3 linked regions of the Homo sapiens genome follow. The protein of the gene in region 2 purifies or fractionates together with the protein of the main gene of each other region. This does not show direct contact. Each region holds a gene or a part of one and is shown on either strand. Other genes may lie near its edges. The genes, in order: RGS3, SEPTIN6 and SOCS7.

Region 1 (3,648 bases), on a different chromosome or scaffold from region 2:
GAGGGATTTTTTTTTCTTTATTGTGAAAAATGATGTAATTTGAAGTCATTGTAGGTATACATAATATTTTTCTCCAGGATTGTATATTTTATTTTGATTAGGATATTTGCTGATTTTTCTTGTAACAGCTTTATTGAAATATAATTCAGATATATACAATTCACTCATTTAAACCATACAATTCAATGGTTTTTAGTATATTCACAGAGATGTGTAACTATTATCACAATTTCAGAACATTTTCATTCCCTCAAAAAGAGACATTATGCTCTTTAGCTTGTACCGTCCTCCCTTGTCCCGAGCCCAAAGCAATTGCTAATCTATTCTCTCCCTCTGTAGATTTGCCTGTTCTGGACATTTCATATAAATGGAATCGTATTTTTTTTTTTATGACTGACTTCTTTCACTTAGCATAATGTTTTCAAGTTTAATCCATGTTGTAGCAGATATCATACTCCATTCATTTTTATGGCTGAGTAGTATTCATTGTATGGCTATACCACATTTTAAAAATTTATTCATCTGGTGATGAATATTTTGGCTGTTTCTCCCTTTTGACTATTATGAATAATACTGCCATGAACATTTGTGAACAAGTTTTTGTGTGGACAAATGTTTTCATTTCTCTTCATATACACACAGTATATACCTAGGAGTAGATTTGCTGAGTCCTATGGTAACTCTGTGTTTAACTATTTAGGGAACTACCAAACTCTTTTCCAAAGTAGGTGTATCATTTTATGTTCCCATCAGCTGTGTATATGGGTTTTGGTTTTTCCACATTCCTTACCAACACTTGTTATTATCTGACTTTTTAATTCTAGCTATCCTAGTGGGTGTGAATTGATATTCACTATAGTTTCGATTTGCATTTTCCTGATGACCCGTGATGTTGAACATTTTTTCATGTGCTCATTATTTATATATCTTCTTTGGAGAAGAATGTATTCAGATCTTTTGTTCATTTTAAAATTGGGCTTTTTGTCTTGTTATTATTGAGTTGTAAGATTTCTTTATATATTCTAGATGCAAGCTCCTTAACCGATATATGATTTGCAAATATTTTCTCTCTATCTGTGGGTTTTTTTCACTTTCTTGATAGTGTTCATTGAATCCCAAACTTTTTTTGGGGATGGGGTCTTGTTTTGTTGCCCAGGCTGGAGTTCAGTGGCATGATCATGGCTCCTCTTTGACCATGCAGCCTCAACCTCCTGTGCTTAAGCGATCCTCCCACTTCAGCCTCCTGAGTAGCTGGTACTACAGATGTGCACCACCATGCCTGGCTAATTTTTCTTATGTAAAAAAAACTTTTTGTAGAGATGAGGTTTCCCTATGTTGCCCAAGCTAGTCTTGAACTCAGGGACTCAAGCGATCTCCTGCCTTGGCCTCCCAAAGTGCTGGGATTATAGGCATGAACCACTGTGTCCAGCCAGAACCCCAAACATTTTTAATTTTGATGAAGTTCAATTTACTTTATCTTTTGTTACTTGTACTTTGTGTTATATCTCAGAATTCACTGCCAAATCTAAGGTTCTGTCAGTTACCAAGAGATTTACCTGTATGTTTTCTTCTAAGAGTTTTATAGTTTTGGCTCTTATATTTAGGTCTTTGATCCACTTTGAGTTAATTTTTGTGTATGGTATGAGGTAAGAGTTCAACTTCATTGTTTTTTGTGGCTATCCAGTTGTCCCAGTACCATTTGTTGAAAATACCATTATTTCTCTATTGGATGATCTTGGTACCTTTACTGAAAATCAATTGCCCATAAACCCACGGCTTATTTCTAGGCTTTCAATTCTATTCCATTGATCTATCTGCCTATTATCATTCCAGTATCATACTGTCTTGATTACTGTTGCTTTGTAGTACATTTTGAAATCAGGTTGTGTAAATCCTCCAATTTTGTTCTTCTCTTTCAAGATCATTTTGGCTGTCCTGGGTCCCTTGAATTTCCATATGAATTTTAGGCATAATATTTTATATAGAAAATAAAAAAACTCAAGTTCACAAAAATGTTGGATAGATAGTTTTAAAATATCATCTTGAAGGGATACCAACTTATTAGTTTGACTGATGAAGCAAATTATTAATTTACCTGGGGTCTCTGAACCAAATTTTAACTTGCTTGGGATCTCTAGTCACCTGGATATGGTGAGTGGTCAGGAGAGAGAACAGGTTGCCTTTTCTGCAGGGTATCTGGGTCTGGAGATGGTGGGCAAGCTGGACATGTTCTGAGGTCTGCAGGTGGCTGTGGACATTGGGTGACAAAATGCACCTCTCTTTAGAAATGCCAGCCCCCTATGAACCTACAAAATGAAAGCTGTCGGGAGCAGCTCTAAATGTAGGCTCGAGAGGACTGCCTGGAGTCACTGATTTGCCATAGGGAAGTTGGGAAGATGTGGTTCTGGAGGCAGAGTAGACTTAGGAGTGTCATTGATTTGCTCAGCATTTTTTTTTTTTTTTTTTTTTTGCCTCATGTTTGTTGTGTTGGTACAATGTTAGCTGGGGCCTGTTTCACTCCTTTCTCTGCCTCTCTTTAGAAGCCGTGGAGATAAATAATTCATTTTCTGTAGTGAGAGTGAAGCTTGGGAACAGATGTCAGCCAGCTGCGTGGTGTGTTGGGCAGTGCACGGTCAGGCCCTGAACTGGAGGCCTTCAATGTGTCCCTGCCAGCTGCCCCTGGCTGGCACGTGTTTCCAGTCCCACTGCTCTGAGCCTGGGAGATTCCCTGGCATGGTTGGGGAAACCTATCCAACTGTTTCTCAGGAGCTCATCATTTGCTGGTCATACTCCTCAGCATTTATTGGCTTTTCTGTCATTCAGAGTCCAACTGCTCAGGAGCTTTCAGAAATTCCTCAAAGTTTCTGGCCCATAGATAGCCCTTTGTCCTCTTTTCCCATTCTGCTTTGTGTGTTCTTCTTAAACATTTAAAAAAGTTTGAAATATTATACAGACAGACAGAAAAGTGTCCCCCCAATAATGTGCAATCCAGTGACTTCTCACAAAAAAAAAACCTTTGTAACTTTCACCAGAGTCAAAAATTGAACATTTCTAGTATTTAGAAGACGCATGTTGATAATGCAGTTTTTTTCTTTATCATTTACTTCAAAATATTTTCTAATTTTCATTGTCATTTCTTTTTCAATCCTTGGGTTAGTTAGAAGTATATTTCTAAATTTCTAAATATTGGGGATTTTCTGGTAATATTTTTATATTTACTTTGCATTTTAGTCAGAGAATATACTCTCCATCCTTTTAATTCCTTGAAATTAATCAAAATTTACTTGATGCCTCAGCATATAGTTGTTTTTTTTTTTTTTTGTCGTTGTTGTTTTGAGACTGAGTCTTACTCTGTCACCAGGCTGGAGTGCAGTGGCGCAATGTAAACTCACTGCAGCCTCCCCTTCCTGGATTCAAGCAATTCTCCTGGCTCAGTCTCCCATGTAGCTGGGATTACAGGCACCCACTACCATGCCTGGCTAATTTTTGTATTTTTAGTAGAGATGGGGTTTTACCATGTTGGCCACACTGGTCTCGAACTCCTGACCTCAGGTGATCCACCTGCCTTGGCCTCCCAAAGAGTCAATTTTTATAAATGTTCTTTGTGTATTTGAAAAGGATTCTGCAGCAGTTGGGTGCAGTGTTCTT
Region 2 (3,648 bases):
ACAAGAAGAATATTCTGGGCCAGGCACAGTGGCTCACGCCTGTAATACCAGCACTTTGGGAGTGCTGTAATCCCAGTAGTCGGCTCAATCCCAGCACTTTGGGAGGCCAAGGTGGGTGGCATAAGGTCAGGAGTTCTAGACCAGCATGGCCAACATGGTGAAACCTCGTCTCTACTAAAAATACAAAAATGAGCTGGGCGTGGTGACGCTTGCCTATAATCCCAGCTACTTGGGAGGCTGAGACAGGAGAATCACTTGAACCCGGGAGGCGGAGCTTTCAGTGAGCCGAGATCGCACCACTGCACTCCAGCCTGGGCAAGAGTGAGACTCTGTCTCGGAAAAAAAAAAAAAGAATATTCTGGCATGCCATTGTGGTAAGTGGATCAGAGAACAAGAGGCACAGACAGTCACAAACTAGAATGCAATAAACTACCCTGAATAGTAAGAGCAGAGCAAGCCGAATTTCACTTTCTTTCATGGATTCAGGAGAGAGTTTAGGATTCTGTAGCACTTGCAGCATACGATGAAGAAGGTTAGTTCTCCGGGTCCTGGGGGTATTTGGCACTGTCACTTAGGTGGGTGAGTGACAGACTTGCTGTATAAACCAGATCTTTTCTTTTTTCTTTTCTTTTTTTTTTTTTTTTGAGACAGAGTCTCGCTCTGTCGCCCAAGCTGGAGTGCAGTGGCACAATCTCGGCTCACTGCAACCTCCGCCTCCCAGGTTCAAGTGATTCTCCTGCCTCGGCCTCCCAAGTAGCTGGGACTACAGGCACGTGCTACCACTCCTGGCTAATTTTTTGTATTTTTAGTAGAGACGGGGTTTCACTGAGTTAGCCAGGATGGTCTCGATCTCCTGACCTTGTCATCCGCCCACCTTGGCCTCCCAAAGTGTTGGGATTACAGGCATGAGCCACCACGCCTGGCCTAAAGCAGCTCTTACTAGTCACTAGGGCTGCCTATCAATTGCCTTAACCTGGTTTTTGTTTGTTGCACTTTTATTCATTTGTCTTTGAGATCCCCTCACTTCTCCTCCTAAAAGTGCTGGGTGACATTTTTGTTTTTTTTATTGAGACAGAGTCTCACTCTGTCACGCAGGCTGGAATGCAGTGGCCTCGATCTCTCGGCTGAAGCATTCCTCCTACCTCAGCCTCCTGGGTAGCTGGGACTACAGGCACGTGCAACCATGCCTGGCTAATTTTTTGTATTTGTAATTATTTTTTTTTTTTGAGATGGAGTCTCGCTCTGTTGCCCAGGCTGGAGTCCAGTGGGACAATCTCGGCTCACTGCAACCTCCGCCTCCTGGGTTCAAGCAATTCTTCTGCCTCAGTCTCCCAAGTAGCTGGGACTACAGGTGCGTACCACCACACCTGGCTAATTTTTGTATTTTTAGCAGAGACAGGGTTTCACCATATTAGCCAGGCTGGCCTCAAACTCCTGAACTCGTGATCCACCCACCTCGACCTCCCAAAGTGCTGGGATTACAGGTGTGAGCAACTGCGCCCAGCCAATTTTTTCTATTTTTAATAGAAACAGGGTCTCAGTATGTTGCCCAGGCTGGTCTTAAACTCCTGGGCTCAAGCAATCCCCTCGCTTTAAGCCTCCCAAAGTGCTGGGATTACAGACCTGAGCCAAGGCACCTGTCTGACATTTTTTTTTTTTGAGGCAGAGTCTCGCTCTGTCGCCCAGGCTGGAGTACAGTGGCGCGATCTCGGCTCACTGCAAGCTCCGCCTTCCGGGTTCACGCCATTCTCCTGCCTCAGCCTCCCGAGTAGCTGGGACTACAGGCGCCCGCCACCACGCCCGGCTAATTTTTTTGTATTTTTAGTAGAGACGGGGTTTCACCGTGTTAGGCAGGATGGTCTCGAACTCTTGACCTTGTGATCCGCCCGCCTTGGCCTCTCAAAGTGCTGGGATTACAGGCGTGAGCCACCGCGCCCAGCCAACAGACATTTTTTTTTTTTAAGTGAAACTGAAAAAAAAAATCAATACCCTTGTCATGGGCTTTGGTGAGAACCCTTGAGAGTGTGACAGGTTAAATGTGGAAGAGAATCGTGAAGTAATTAAGTGTTTCCTTTCTTTTTTTTTGTTTTTGAGATGGAGTCTTGCTCTGTCACCAAGGCTGGAGTGCAGTGGCATGATCTCAGCTCACTGTAACCTCCACTTCCCAGATTCAAGCGATTCTCCTGCCTCAGCCTCCCAAGTAGCTGGGACTATAGGCATGTGCCACCACACTCCACTAATTGTTGTATTTTTAGTAGAGACAGGGTTTCACCATGTTGGCCAGGCTGGTCTCGAACTCCTGACTTCAGGTGATCCAACTACCTCGGCCTCCCAAAGTGTTGGGATTACAGGCGTGAGCCACAGTGTCCGGCCCAATGTTTGGATTTCTGTTCCTGTGTTAGTTTGCTGAAGATAATGGCTCCCAGCTCCACTCATGTCCTTCTAAAGAACATCCTCTGATTCCTTTTTATGGCTGCATAGTATTCCATGGTGTATATGTACCACATTTTCTTTATCCAATCTATCATTGATGGGCATTTGAGTTGATTCTATGTCTTTCCTATTGTGAATAGTGTTGCAGTGAACATATGTGTGTGTGTATCTTTATAATAAAGTGATCTATAGGATTGCTGGGTCGAATGGCATTTCTGATTCTAGGTCTTTGAGGAATCACCACACTGTCTTCCACAGTGGTTGAAGTAATTTACATTCACACCAACAGTGTAAAAGCGTTCCTATTTTTCCACAGTCTCACCAGCAGCTGTTGTTTCTTGACATTTTAATAATCACCAGGCTCACATTTACCTCTTTCTCTGCCTCTTTGAGCTCCGCTTCTTTCTCTTTGACTCGCTGGACGAACATCTGTCTCATCTCCTCTTCTTTTTTCTGGAGTTCCCCTAGGAACTCGTTCCTTTTGGCCTCATATGTCTCCTGTAAACTGCGAACATGGTCAGGTTAATTCTTCTTCCTTTGGAATGATTCCTATTTGATAAAACTGGCCCCAAAGATCCTCACTGGGTTCCTCTGTCCTCCCTTCCCCAGTTGTGAGCCAGGTACAAAAATAGAACCACAAAGCTGTGGGCACCTGGCTTGGCCCATGACAGCATGCCCACAGGGATTCTGGAGGGGGATGGGGCAACCCTAGTGAACTGGAGAGACTTAGAATATCTGGTTCTATACTCTTGTTCTACGGATGAGAAAACTGAGGCCCAGAGAGGTGAGGTGTCTTACTCAAGGCCCCACGGCTAGTTAGAGGGAGAACTTTGACCAGAAGCTGAGTCTCCTGTCTCTTCATCTGGGTTTTCCCACTGCACAATGCTGCCAGGCCCTGGCTCTGAAACTGACCACATTAATGAACTATTTCAACAAATGCTTGAGGAGACTCCATATGTGCTAGACTCAGTACTAATTGACATGATGCTAGTCACTCAGCCTCTAGAGCCAACAGCCATCATACCTGCCATCAAGGAACTCATGGTCTAGTGGGAGATGCCCCTGGCCTAAGCTTATTTTTAAAGAAATAGGAGATAGGCTGGGTGCAGTGGCTCACGCCTGTAATTCCAGCACTCTGGGAGGCCAAGACGGGTGGATCACCTGAGGTCAGGAGTTCGAGACCAGCCTGGCCAACATGGTGAAACCCCATCTCTA
Region 3 (4,380 bases), on a different chromosome or scaffold from region 2:
AAAAAGCTGTTTCAGCAGCCACCCACTTTTCAAGATCTGAACTCCCAGCATGAATTCACTGGGAGGCAAAGCAGAAACACTGGCCTACCTAAAGGGACAACACACTGATTTCTTTAGAAAGTTTGGATTTGGCCTCATCCCCAAGATAAGCCCATGGCACAGCTGTTCAGAAAGGGCAAGAAAGCCAAATCCACCCAACATTTTCTTGTTGGAGTACCCAAGTTCCCTTGAAAACAGAAGTCTATGGATGAGTGGTTCCCAGTTCAGGATCAACTGGGGAGCTTTTAAAAAGTTCAAACTCTTAGGCTTTTCAAAAAGCTCCCCAAGTGATCTTAGTTCACAGTAAGGTTATCAATTTATACCTGTTCTTTAGCTTTGGTTTATGGCTGCCAGTATGTCTCAAGAATCCATCACGTAAACCACAACAAAACCCATTCCAATCTTTCTGAGAACCCAAAGAAGTACAAACCACAATGGCAGTTACTACAAGGTAACTAATTTCACTGACACCAAAGTTGACAGCTTTGTAAACCAACGCTACAGATGTAACACTGGATGCCGAAGATCAGTCCACCCCTCAGAAATGCAGGAAAAAAACTCAACGTCTATGTTTGGAATTTTCATCAATCGGCCTAGAACTCATGTACCTGTCTCTACCTTGTCTATATCTTACTGGTACTTAGAATTCTCAAAAGGCTTTGAGAGAGCGCAAAGCTATTTTCTCGAGACAGGCTCTCACTCTGTCACGCAAGCTGGAGTGCAGTGGCACGATCACTATTCACTGCAACCTCCGCCTCCTGGGCTCAAGTGATCCTCCTGCCTCAGCCTCCCGAGTAGCTGGGACCACTCCCGCCTAATTTTTTGTATTTTTTTCGTAGAGATGGGGGCTAATTTTTTGTTTGTTTGTTTTGTAGAGATGGGGTTTCGCATGTTGCCCAGGCTGGTCTCAAACTCCTGAGCTCAGGTGATCCGCCCTCCTCGGCCTCCCAAAGTGCTGGGATTACAGGTGTGAGCCACTGTGCCCGGTCTGCTATTTTCTATTCTCAGAGACAGTGGTCAGCACCCAAGTTTGATATGCCAAGTTCATCTAAGGGAACAACCAGGAAAACAGTAAAACTTTGAATAGAGGTGTCCAATTGATTGCTGGCCTACAATTGCATTTGAAGATTCTCCTGTCATTTGCATGCATGAGTGTGAAGGGAGGTGCGGTGCTGGTACACAGAATAAGCAAGGCGGTCAAGGTGCAACACCAGCTTTTTGCCCCAAAGGCCAAACACTTCCAGCAATCTCCCTTCCAGGGACAATGGCACACAGCCGCCTTGGAAAAACTTAAAAAGCCATGCCAGGATGGGGATGGGAGGATGGTCTGAAACCATCTTCCAACAAGACAGATGCAAACCAGCTGAGAAGTGTCACGGAGTGTGCACTCTTTAAGAGTGAAAGCTGTTTCCACAATTAGCGCTGACCTTATGCGAGATGTTACCACCTTTGGTCCCAAGTCTCTGCCTCCTCCTGAAGACCCTATCTTAAGAACTGTCAGGATCGCGATAGCAATAGATAAAAAGGGAAACCAAACAAGAAAAGGAAGTTTGTCGGCCAGCCCCCGGCCGGTCTCACCTCCCCGCGTCCAGCTCCCGGCCCGCAGAGCCTCCCATGTCTGTCAGGCTCGCAGCTGAAGCAGCCAGCTCTCCAGAAGGCCTCTTGCCGGTCCCATCCCCACCGCCGGAGCCACCGTTGCAGCTCTTGGTGCGAAAGAGGCGACTGAGGCGGATTTTGAAGGAGCCCTTCCGAGAAGGACCCGCGAGTGGCCGGAGGGGCCCGGGAGGAGGCGGGGGCGGGGGAGGTTGCTGCTGCTGCTGCTGCTGCTGCTCCCCTCTACTCAGGCGCCCCAGAGGGACCAAGTCCTGCAGCGGGAAGGGCACCGGAGGTAATTCAGGGCCTGGGGGCTGCAGCAGAAGCCGGCCGCCCCCTCCTCCTCCGCGACCCGGGCTGCTGAGCTCCTCTTCCGAGCAGCTGTTAGTCTCCAGGCTCTCGGCCTCCGATTCCAAGCCCTCCAGGACCAGCAGCGCGTCGCTCGTTTCCGTGGGGTCCTCCCCGGCCTGCGGGGCGGCAGCAGGCGGCTGGGGCTGCGGAGGGGGCGGCTGAGGAGGACACGGACACGGGCAGCAACCCCCACCGACTGTCTTGACCCCCGGCCCCGCCGGCTGCCCGAGCCCCAGAGCCGCCAACTGCGCCTCTAGTCCAGCCGCCGGGCCCCAGGTCCGCTCGAGCGCCAAGCCCGGCGGCAGGGCCTTGGGGTCCAGGGCACAGCGGTGCCGGGGACACAGCAGTTCCGAGGGTCCCGGCTCCGGGGCCGCCTCCACGTCCTCCTCCTCCGGCGGCCGACCCACGTTGCGGAACACCATCAGCTGCGGCGGCCGGGAGCCCCGCGGGCCGGGCCGCGCGAGGAAGGGTGGCGGCGGGGGGCCATGGCCCGGGGGCGGTGGCGGAGGGCCTGGCTCGGGGGCCGCCTCTCCATAGCCAAGGAGGCGGCTCAGGACGCGGTACGAAGCGGCCGCCGCCGCCGCCTCGCCATCCCGGAGCTCGGCCTCCTGCATCGGGGAGAGGGAGGGAGGGCGGGCGGCTGGGAGCCGGGCTGGGGTGGGGACTAGGCCGGGCCCCGCCGGAGCCCCGCCCGCCGCGGCCCCCGGAGCGACAGCGCTAACGGCCGCCGCGGCCTCTGCCTCATAGAGGGGGGCGGGGGGCGCGCGGAGCCCAGCGCGAGCCCAGGCCGCGCTCCGCCACCGCCGAGCACCGCCCCCAAGCCGACGTCACTTCCGGAAGGGCTTAGCCACGCCACTTTCCCCAGGGCGTGCTCGCGCTGGCCTCCACGGCGAGTGACGCCGCGCGCGCCCCCGGCCCCTATTGGCGGTGAGCTGTCTGTTGGCTGGCGTTGGTCTCTTTTCCCGGTCCTTGCTTTTCACTTCCTGGGCGCCCAGGCCCAGGCCATCCCATTCGGTAGAGTGGAGAGGCCTTGGAAACCATGGTCTGGTCCTGGGAGCGCGCCGCTGGCCTTGGGAGCACATATGGTTCTGCCATCTACGCCGCTTGCGATGTGTGACCTTGGCTGAGTCATTTCATCATTAATCTGTATCTCCGTCCGCCTGGCACCCAGTGAATGTTTGTGGAATCAGTACATGAATCGTGTTCTAGACCCAGTGCTGTACTGATAAATGTGTAACAACCAGCTCTCTGGGGGGAGAACGGGAATGTATGCACATATATAGGTACAAAAATTTGTCGTTAAGTTTTACTGACATAAAGGATGTGTAGTTCACAATTTACAATTAATAGTAAATTGGCAAATTCCATATAACTCTTTCTCACAGAATGCTTTCATTGATTTTTGCCAAACTCTTATATGGGTAGCCAAACTGTGATTGCAGTTGACCTAGGAGTGTAATTGTAAAGGTGAATGTTGGTTGATAAAACTGAAAAAGACAAAACTTAATTGGATTGTCAATGATGGGAGCAACTTCTTTGCTGAGTCAGAAAACGGTTTCAAATACTGGAAGAATATTTACTCAATTTTTGTGCTATTCATAATGTAACGGCTACAGACAACACATTAAGTTTTTGCTGTTGTTGAGATGGAATCTTTCTCTATTGCCCAGGCTGGAGTGCAATGGCGCTATCTTGGCTCACTGCAACCTCTGCCTCCCGGGTTCAAGCAATTCTCCTGCCTCGCTCCAGGTAATTTTTTGTATTCTTAGTAGAGACAGGGTTTCACCATGTTGGCCAGGCCAGTTTTGAACTCCTGACCTCAGGTGATCCACCCGCCTTGGCCTCCCAAAATGCTGGGATTACAGGCGTGAGCCACCGCGCCCACGCCCGGCCTTCTTATCTTTACACAGGGATAAGGATTGCAATTTTGCTTGCTTGCAGGCATGTTGTGAGGATCAAATAAGATCAAGCTTTTTGTGTGGAGGAGGTGAGACTGGAGGCAGGGAGCCCATTGAAATAGTCCCAGTGGGAGATATTGAGAGATGCAAGGGAAAAGGAGGAAGGATCAGCTGCAGAACTCAGTGACTTCTAATACCTGAGGGTGCATTGAGGGGAAGAGGGTGGAGGGTTGAGTCCTGCAACCAGAGGGACCTTTTCAGAATGGAAATGTGTTCATAGCCTGTGATTAAAATTGTTCATGGCTTCCCATTGTTCTTAGGCTAATGTGTGATCTTGTGATCTGACCCCTGTGTGATCTAACCCCTGCCTCTCTAGCCACATCCCCTGCTAAGCTCCACCTTGTTCTCTGTTCCCTGCATTCCCATCAACCTTGCGGCAGGCTCCCATACATGTGGGCAAGAAAAGCTATTCCCTTTTCTTGCAAGACTTTTCTCTTTT

Evidence for each region.
Region 1: the proteins of SEPTIN6 (region 2) and RGS3 purify together in Homo sapiens (co-immunoprecipitation; one large-scale study listed by IntAct). This does not show direct contact.
Region 3: the proteins of SEPTIN6 (region 2) and SOCS7 purify together in Homo sapiens (affinity purification with western blotting; one study listed by BioGRID and IntAct). This does not show direct contact.

Annotation. Positions count from the first base shown.
Region 1 is NC_000009.12:113,466,595-113,470,242, forward strand, and holds part of RGS3 (regulator of G-protein signaling 3), read left to right. Parts: intron 1-3,648. UniProt on the Homo sapiens protein: Down-regulates signaling from heterotrimeric G-proteins by increasing the GTPase activity of the alpha subunits, thereby driving them into their inactive GDP-bound form.
Region 2 is NC_000023.11:119,630,555-119,634,202, forward strand, and holds part of SEPTIN6 (septin-6), read right to left. Parts: intron 2,939-3,648; coding exon 2,806-2,938; exon of another isoform or gene 2,763-2,805; intron 1-2,762. UniProt on the Homo sapiens protein: Filament-forming cytoskeletal GTPase. Required for normal organization of the actin cytoskeleton. Involved in cytokinesis. May play a role in HCV RNA replication.
Region 3 is NC_000017.11:38,350,270-38,354,649, reverse strand, and holds the start of SOCS7 (suppressor of cytokine signaling 7), read right to left. Parts: upstream 2,807-4,380; 5' UTR 2,598-2,806; coding exon 1,618-2,597; intron 1-1,617. UniProt on the Homo sapiens protein: Substrate-recognition component of a cullin-5-RING E3 ubiquitin-protein ligase complex (ECS complex, also named CRL5 complex), which mediates the ubiquitination and subsequent proteasomal degradation of target proteins, such as DAB1 and IRS1.